2 linked regions of the Homo sapiens genome follow. The protein of the gene in region 1 interacts with the protein of each later gene in a pairwise test. Each region holds a gene or a part of one and is shown on either strand. Other genes may lie near its edges.

Region 1 (3,810 bases):
TTAAATAACTGTCTTTTTTTTCTTAATGTGAGAGTGATACATACTCCCTGTAGAATAATTTGTAAATGCAGATAAGGCTGGACGCAGTGGTTCATGCCTGTAATCCCAGCACTTTGGGAGGCTGAGGTGGAAGGATCCTTTGAGCCCAGGAGTTTGAGACCAGATGTGGCAACATAGGGAGACCCCATCTCTAAAAAAGTTTTTTAAATTAGCCAGACATGGGCCTGGCGCAGTGGCTCATGTCTGTAATCCCAGCACTCTGGGAGGCTGAGGCGGGCAGATCATGAGGTCAGGAGATCGAGACCATCCTGGCTAACAAGGGGAAACCCCGTATCTACTAAAAATACAAAAAATTAGCCAGGCGTGGTGGCAGGCGCCTGTAGTCCCAGCTACTCAGGAGGCTGAGGCAGGAGAATGGCGTGAACCCAGGAGGTGGAGCTTGCAGTGAGCTGAGATCGCGCCACTGCACTCCAGCCTGGGTGACAGAGCAAGACTCTGTCTCAAAAAAAAGAAAAAGAAAAATCCCAGCTACTTGAGAGGCTGAGGTGGGAGGGTTGAGCCTGGGAGGTTGAGGCTGCAGTGAGCTATGATTGTGCCACTGTACTCCAGCCTGGGTGACAGAGGGAGACCCTAACTCAAAAAAAAAAAAAAAAAAAACAAAATGTTGGGTGGGCATGGTGGCTCACACCTATAATCCCAGCACTTTGGGAGGCCATGGCAGGCGGATCACCTGAGATTAGGAGTTCGAGACCAGCCTGGCCAACGTGGTCAAACCCCATCTCTACCAAAAAATACAAAAATTAGCCGGGTGTGGTTCACGCCTGTAATCCCAGCTACTCGGGAGGCTGAGGCAGGAAAATCGCTTGAACCCAGGAGGTGGAGGTTGCAGTGAGCCAAGACTGTGCCACTGCACTCCAGCCTGAGTGACAGAGTGAGACCCTGTCTCAAAAAAAAAAAAAAAAAAAAAATGTAGATAAGCAAAATGATGAAAAATTCTACCACTACGTGGAAAATACATTTTGGCACGGCACACATTAACTGAGTACCTGTGTGTGCAGGGCAGGCCTTTGGTGAGAAGACGAGGAAACAGAAAAGAGTCACTGGGATGAAGGCTGAGAAGTCCACATCCATTTGTTGGGTAGGGACCCCCCTCAGCCTGGCACGTTGGAAAGCTCTCCAGAGCCCTGAGCCCTGAAGAATAAGCCTCCTCCTGAGAGCAGGAGGTGGTTAGGCAGGGCTGGAGCCTGGATGATCAGTTGCCATGGTGCCCGGGTGAAGTGATGGTGGGGTCGCAGGAAGGGCAGTCTCAGACCCACCAGGAGAGCAAGGCTAAGCCTTAACCTGCCACCAAGACCTGGACCAGCTGACCCAGATCCTGAAAGTGACCGGGGTGCCTGGCACGGAGTTTGTGCAGAAGCTGAACGACAAAGCGGTGGGTGGTAAATGGGACCTAGGCTGGCCTGGGCTGTGTGCTTGCCTGACGTGGGCCCAGTGGGCTGCAGGCCTTTGTGGAAGAAGGCTCACCAGCACCTTCCCACAGCATCCTCCTACCCTGGCAGGCACTCTTGTCTTAATCTCACCGTGGACCCTGACCTGAACTTTCAGCCCTGCTCTGAGGCTTTTCTGAAATCCCTGCTCTACACGCTGAGGCCAGAGCCCTAAGGGGTTTGATGCTTTTCTGTCTTCCAGGCCAAATCCTACATCCAGTCCCTGCCACAGACCCCCAGGAAGGATTTCACTCAGCTGTTCCCACGGGCCAGCCCCCAGGGTGAGTCTCAGAGCCCGCTCCCCAGGGGCCTCTCAGCGTATCCCAGAGGGCGGGCTCTCCCAGCCCCTGGTGTGAGGCTCTTGGCTCTGCCCCTGCAGCTGCGGACCTGCTGGAGAAGATGCTGGAGCTAGACGTGGACAAGCGCCTGACGGCCGCGCAGGCCCTCACCCATCCCTTCTTTGAACCCTTCCGGGACCCTGAGGAAGAGACGGAGGCCCAGCAGCCGTTTGATGATTCCTTAGAACACGAGAAACTCACAGTGGATGAATGGAAGCGTAAGAGCTGGGGCCTCGGGCTTCCTCGCCTCCGCCTGCAGCCTCTCTTCCTTGCTTCCTCCATCTTTGTGCCTGGCCTCTGCCAGCCCTACCTGCCACCTCCTTCTTGGTGGGCATTGTCTCCTGGGTGCTTCTTTCTCCTTGAGCTGACTTCGCTCTCCATGCTGTCTCTGAAGGGGGGTGGACTTTCTCGCCACAGCACCTCTTTACGCACCTTAAACCATGCTGCCTTTCTCAGAGCACATCTACAAGGAGATTGTGAACTTCAGCCCCATTGCCCGGAAGGACTCACGGCGCCGGAGTGGCATGAAGCTGTAGGGACTCATCTTGCATGGCACCGCCGGCCAGACACTGCCCAAGGACCAGTATTTGTCACTACCAAACTCAGCCCTTCTTGGAATACAGCCTTTCAAGCAGAGGACAGAAGGGTCCTTCTCCTTATGTGGGAAATGGGCCTAGTAGATGCAGAATTCAAAGATGTCGGTTGGGAGAAACTAGCTCTGATCCTAACAGGCCACGTTAAACTGCCCATCTGGAGAATCGCCTGCAGGTGGGGCCCTTTCCTTCCCGCCAGAGTGGGGCTGAGTGGGCGCTGAGCCAGGCCGGGGGCCTATGGCAGTGATGCTGTGTTGGTTTCCTAGGGATGCTCTAACGAATTACCACAAACCTGGTGGATTGAAACAGCAGAACTTGATTCCCTTACAGTTCTGGAGGCTGGAAATCTGGGATGGAGGTGTTGGCAGGGCTGTGGTCCCTTTGAAGGCTCTGGGGAAGAATCCTTCCTTGGCTCTTTTTAGCTTGTGGCGGCAGTGGGCAGTCCGTGGCATTCCCCAGCTTATTGCTGCATCACTCCAGTCTCTGTCTCTTCTGTTCTCTCCTCTTTTAACAACAGTCATTGGATTTAGGGCCCACCCTAATCCTGTGTGATCTTATCTTGATCCTTATTAATTAAACCTGCAAATACTCTAGTTCCAAATAAAGTCACATTCTCAGGTTCCAGGTGGACATGAATTCCAGGGGGAAATGATTCAACTCACTACAGACAGCTGGGAGGGAGGGGCCCCTTCCTGGGCCCCGTGCTGAGGCCTTGTGCTCTGTGAAGGAACCCAATGTGTTTGGCTGCTAAATTAAGGGAGTTGCAGAGAGAGCTGCAGCTGGTGCGATTGCATTCAGGTTATTTTGGGTGAGTGATAAGCAATCAAGATATGAAACAACAGCAGGCTCGGAGACTGCGAGCTGCACAGGCAGAAATGGGCTCTTGCCTGGCTTGATGGCAAACCGTTCTGCTCCCTTTGGGAGATGGCACAGCTCTCCAGAGCTTTGACCTGACAGTGGCTAGAACCTCTCTGTTTTTATCTGAGAAACTTTGGCAGAACAAATTTCCATGTGCACAAGCTGTCGGGCACAGTGGGTCTCAAATTTCCTTGTGCACCAGGGGACTTGTTAAAATGCAGATTCCTGGGCCCCACCCCAGGGCTTGTGACTCAGCAGGTCTGCAGTTGAGACCTTAGAATGTGCATTTGAATGAGGACCTCTCGCCCTGACCCAAGCCTAGTGATTCTGATGGATATCAGACCATAGTTCGAGACATTTAGTGGATTTCAGTCATACTTGATTTGTTGGGAGGCCTAAATCAAAAACCTATAGGAGGAGACTGGGGGGCTTCAGATGGAGTTTCACACTCATCTTACAGGTGTTAAAACTGAGGCTCAGAAAGCTTTTTTTTGTTTGTTTGTTTGAGACAGGGTCTGGCTCTGTCACCCGGGC
Region 2 (4,580 bases), on another chromosome or scaffold:
CACAGTTCACAGTAGGGTTCACACTGTTATGAGAATCTAATGCCGCCACTAATCTGACAGGAGGCAGAGCTCAGGCAGTAATGCCAGCAATGGGGAGTGGCTATAAATACAGATGAAGCTTCTCTTGCTCACCTGCCAGTCACCTGCTGTGCAGCCCACTTCCTAACAGGCCACAGACCGGTATCGGTCTGTGTATTGGTCTATGGCCTGGAGGTTGGGGACCCCTGCTGTAATGTGAAGTCAGGAGCTGTGGTAGCTTTCTTGGAGCCATGAAGTGGCAATCCCCAGGAAAAAAAGTCACCATATTAGGGATAAAAAAGAGAAAAGATTAAAATGAATGTAGTTCTTGATGATATTTTCCAGATATAACCTAACCTAGTATTACCCTCTTGCAAAATTCTTGTAAAGTAAACCATAAATTTCGTCTTGGTTCTAAGCTAAGCTTGTCCAGCCCATGGCCTAAGATGGCTTTGAATGCAGCCCAACACAAATTCATAAACTTTCTTAAAACATTATCAGATTTTTGGGGGATTTTTTTTTTTTTTTTTTTTTTTAGCTCATCAGGTATCGTTAGTGTTAGTGTATTTTATGTGTGGCCCAAGACAATTCTTCTTCTTCCAGTGTGGCCCAGGGAAGGCAAAAGATTGGACACCCCTTGTTGAAGCCATTGTTAGGTGTAATTGTAAATTATAAATTACTTAGAATTAAAAACAGCCCGGCTCATGCCTGTAATCCCAGCATTTGGGGAGGCTGAGGCAGGAGGATCACTAAACCCAGGGGTCTGAGACATGCCTGGGCAACGTAGCAGGATACTGTCTCTAAAAGAAAAGAAAAAACAGTCTTAATGCAACAATGCCTTGGTAATAATGCTTTTAGAATCAGTGTCGTTATCTCTGATTCTGTAACTGTCTTACCATATTTCTCCATATCACTCTGATACCCTTGGAAGGATGCTTAACATTTCAGAAAAACGGTTATTTCTTTGGGCTAGAAGACTACAAATGAGCTTCCACAAGATCAGAGGATTATGGGGTTAATCTTGGTGGTGTGCATGGGTGTGGACGCGCTGTCCTGCCAACTGTCTCAACTTCCCCCACTCCCTTACCTCTCTCTGTGTTTCTGGTCTCCATCCCTCATGACTTCTTCTCTTCCTTTCATTGCCTCCCTCTGATTCTTCTCACCACAGTGCTTGCTGCTTTCTTTACCTTGACCCTTGGAGGGAGCAGGGGCCCGGACACTTGGATTTCTTGGCCCTTGTTGTTGAGAGCACTGAACCTCTGCATCCCACAGAGACTGAGGCTGAGAAATACAGTCAGGTACATGAGTTTCTAAACAGGCCCAGCCCACTGTCCTAATGCCATTAAAGCAGACAGTATATTGGTGTATTCTTGGGGCCATCAAAAATCAGAAGAAGCTCAGACTTCCTATTTCCTGCTACCCAGCTGGTTTTAGTTCCTTTACCCCTCCTCCTGTTCCTTGGTGTATGTTTTGCTGCAATCATTAGAGCCTGAGTCACTCTCCCCAGGAGACCCAGACCTAGAACTACCCAGAGCAAGACCACAGCTGGTGAACAGTCCAGGTAAGAAACATATTCTGGGGGACTGGGTAGCTTGACATAGACACACTTAATACACTGGTGAACACAATAGACTCTTTGTTTGAAGAAGGATGTGGAGTTGAAGAATAATTTTTTTAAAGAGGTTCTAAACAGGCCGGGCACGGTGACTCATGCTTGTAATCCCAGCACTTTGGGAGGCCAAGGCAGGTGGATAACTTGAGGTCAGGAGTTCGAGACCAGCCTGGCCAACATGTTGAAACCTCACTTCTATTAAAAATACAAAAATTAGCCAGGCGTGGTGGTGGGCGTCTGTAATTCAAGCTACTTGGGAGGCTGAGGCAGGAGAATTGCTTGAATCTGGGAGGTGGAGGTTGCAGTGAGCTCAGATTGCACCACTGTACTCCAGCCTAGGTGACAGAGTGAGACTCCATCTCAAATAAATAAGTAAATAAATAAATAAACAAATAGGCTCTAGACTTTATTGGGGTCCTGATGGGAATGATGGAATATAGAGACACTATGAGGCTGCAGGAGAGAGAAGGGATAAGTGAAGGAGGGAAGTTCTTGAGTAAATGGGGGAATGAGTTTTATGGGACCAGTAGAGGGTAATTCTTGGATGGAAACACTTGTTTTCTGGTTACAGAGATGAGGGCAGAGAACAGTGATGCAGGAGCCAGCAGGAGGAGAATCTGGTGGAGCAAGAGGCAAGGGCATCAGCTTGAGGGCTTGAGTCGGGATGGGAAAGGATGTTTGGTTTGAAGCTTTCAGGAGAAAGCAAAAGAGCCCTAACGACTTTATGATGGGTCATGGGGAAATGAGTGTAATACAGAAGCAGTCACCTTTCGGATCAGTGATGAGTCTCCACGTGAAGACACTGGTTCTGCATGGTGCATAGGACCCAGTAGCGGAATACAGCCCTGCCCTCTCATGAATCTGCAGACATTGGCTGTCATTTCTCATCAAGCTCCTAGTTTCCTCTTCCGTCACACAGGGATGATGATGTATAATCAATGCTGAGTTTGTTGAGATCAGAGGCAAGAAAGTTGAGGATGTGGTACAATGATTATCAAGCATAAAGTCCTTCATCGATGGCAGCCACCAAGGCCTGTGTTCATTGCAAATCACAGGATTTTTCCCTTGAACCATAATTGGACAAAATTGCACAGGTTTTCCTCTCTGGTATGTTCCAGCTCATTATTGCAGAATCCTCATCATTCATTGCAACAATCTTCTGAACTGGTTGCCTTAGAGATTCTTGAGGACAAAGAGTCCTCAGGGTATTTTGGTGGTTGGATGGGTGGTAGGGGAGGGAGACATCTCTGAGTTGTTTCTGAGATTGTAGAGTATCAAAGTTCATTAGAAATGTGAGACACATATGTAATTTCAAAGTGTCAAGTAGGCACTTTAAAAAGGTGAAGAGAAACATGCGAACTTAATTTTAATAAAATATCTAACCTAAACTTAAATAGCCAAATTATTATCATTTTAACATGTAGTCAATATAAAAACTATTAATGAGATGGTCACAATATTTTTTTCATACTAAGTCTTTGAAATCTGATGGGTATTTTACTCCTACAGCCTGTCTCCAGTTGGACTAGCCACAATTCAAGTGCTTGAAAACCACATGTGGTGAGTGACTAGTGCATTAGACAGCTCTTCTGTGCCAGTAGCGTGGCAGGGCAGAGGCAGAAAGAGACTTTTGCTGGAATTCGACAGCCTGGGCTGTTGGGTGACTTTAAGGAATTAACTGAAATGCTCTAAGTCGCACTTTCCTCGTCTGCAAAATGGGTACCATAAAGACAGTGACCCTCATAGTAACAATTTTGAGGAAGGCTGCTGCAAGCATTAGAAGAGAAGACCAGGCCGGGCGCAGTGGCTCACACCTGTAATCCTAGCACTTTGGGAGGCTGAGGCAGGTGGACTGCCTGAGCTCAAGAGTTTGAGACCAGCCTGGGCAACATGGTGAAACCCCATGTCTACTAAAATACAATTAAAAAGAAAAATTAGCCAGGCACGGCGGCGTGCACCTGAAATCCCAGCTACTCAGGAGGCTGAGACAGGAGAATTGCTTGAACCTGGGAGGCGGAGGTTGCAGTGAGCTCAGATCACGCCACTGCACTCCAGCCTGGGTGATAGAGAGAGACTCCATCTCAAAATAAATAAATAAATAAAATAAAATAAATTAAAAAAAAGAGAGAAGGCCAGCTCTCAGCAAGAACCTGACATGCACTTTGCATACCTGATCTAATGAAATGTCATATCCAATACATATTTGGACTATTATTTCTATCACGGTCTTCTACATCCCCAAGAGTGCTGAGCCCATCCAATGGATGGAGAAGCACCTCCCATCCATCTGGCCAAGGTAACCGCAGAGACGAGAGTGGAAACAGAGTCTGTTGTTCTGACTTCTTCTAGCACAGAATCCATTGGATATAATACTTGATTATACGTCGTTTAGTATCACTCACGGATCCATTTGACCTATGTTGGAAAACTAACCAAGTACTATGCCTTGCTTCCCACGATGAGAGAGGAAAGGGAGATTTCATGACCTTAAAGAGAGAGAGCGAGCAGAATTTGGAGTGGAGAAGTTGCATATCTTTTTTTTTTTTTTGAAACGGAGTCTCGCTCTGTCGCCCAGGCTGGAGTGCAATGGCGCAGTCTCTGCTCACTGCAACCTCCGCCTCCCACGTTCAAGTGATTCTCCTGCCTCAGCCTCTGGAGTAGCTGGGACTAAAAGCACCCACCGCCATGCCTGGCTAATTTTTGTATTTTTAGTAGAGATGGGGCTTCTCCATGTTGGCCAGGCTGGTCTCGAACTGCTAACCTCATGATCCACCCGCCTCGGCCTCCCAAGGTACTGGGATTACAGGCGTGAGCCACTGCGCCTGGCTGAGAAGTTGCATACCTTATAGTTCTTATGCAGTGTTATGGGTGAGAGAAAGTCTTAGTCCACGTTTGTGTGACACTAGGTCACTGAAGCTGTCGCCCACTGATTTTCTGATATCTTATGCTC

Evidence for each region.
Region 2: the proteins of MAPK13 (region 1) and FPR1 interact in binary tests that used the Homo sapiens proteins (3 or more experiments, as listed by UniProt).

Annotation. Positions count from the first base shown.
Region 1 is NC_000006.12:36,137,013-36,140,822, forward strand, and holds part of MAPK13 (mitogen-activated protein kinase 13), read left to right. Parts: intron 1-1,352; coding exon 1,353-1,432; intron 1,433-1,689; coding exon 1,690-1,768; intron 1,769-1,866; coding exon 1,867-2,043; intron 2,044-2,281; coding exon 2,282-2,361; 3' UTR 2,362-3,810. UniProt on the Homo sapiens protein: Serine/threonine kinase which acts as an essential component of the MAP kinase signal transduction pathway.
Region 2 is NC_000019.10:51,748,813-51,753,392, reverse strand, and holds the start of FPR1 (fMet-Leu-Phe receptor), read left to right. Parts: upstream 1-1,514; 5' UTR 1,515-1,579; intron 1,580-3,139; exon of another isoform or gene 3,140-3,190; intron 3,191-4,580. UniProt on the Homo sapiens protein: High affinity receptor for N-formyl-methionyl peptides (fMLP), which are powerful neutrophil chemotactic factors. Binding of fMLP to the receptor stimulates intracellular calcium mobilization and superoxide anion release.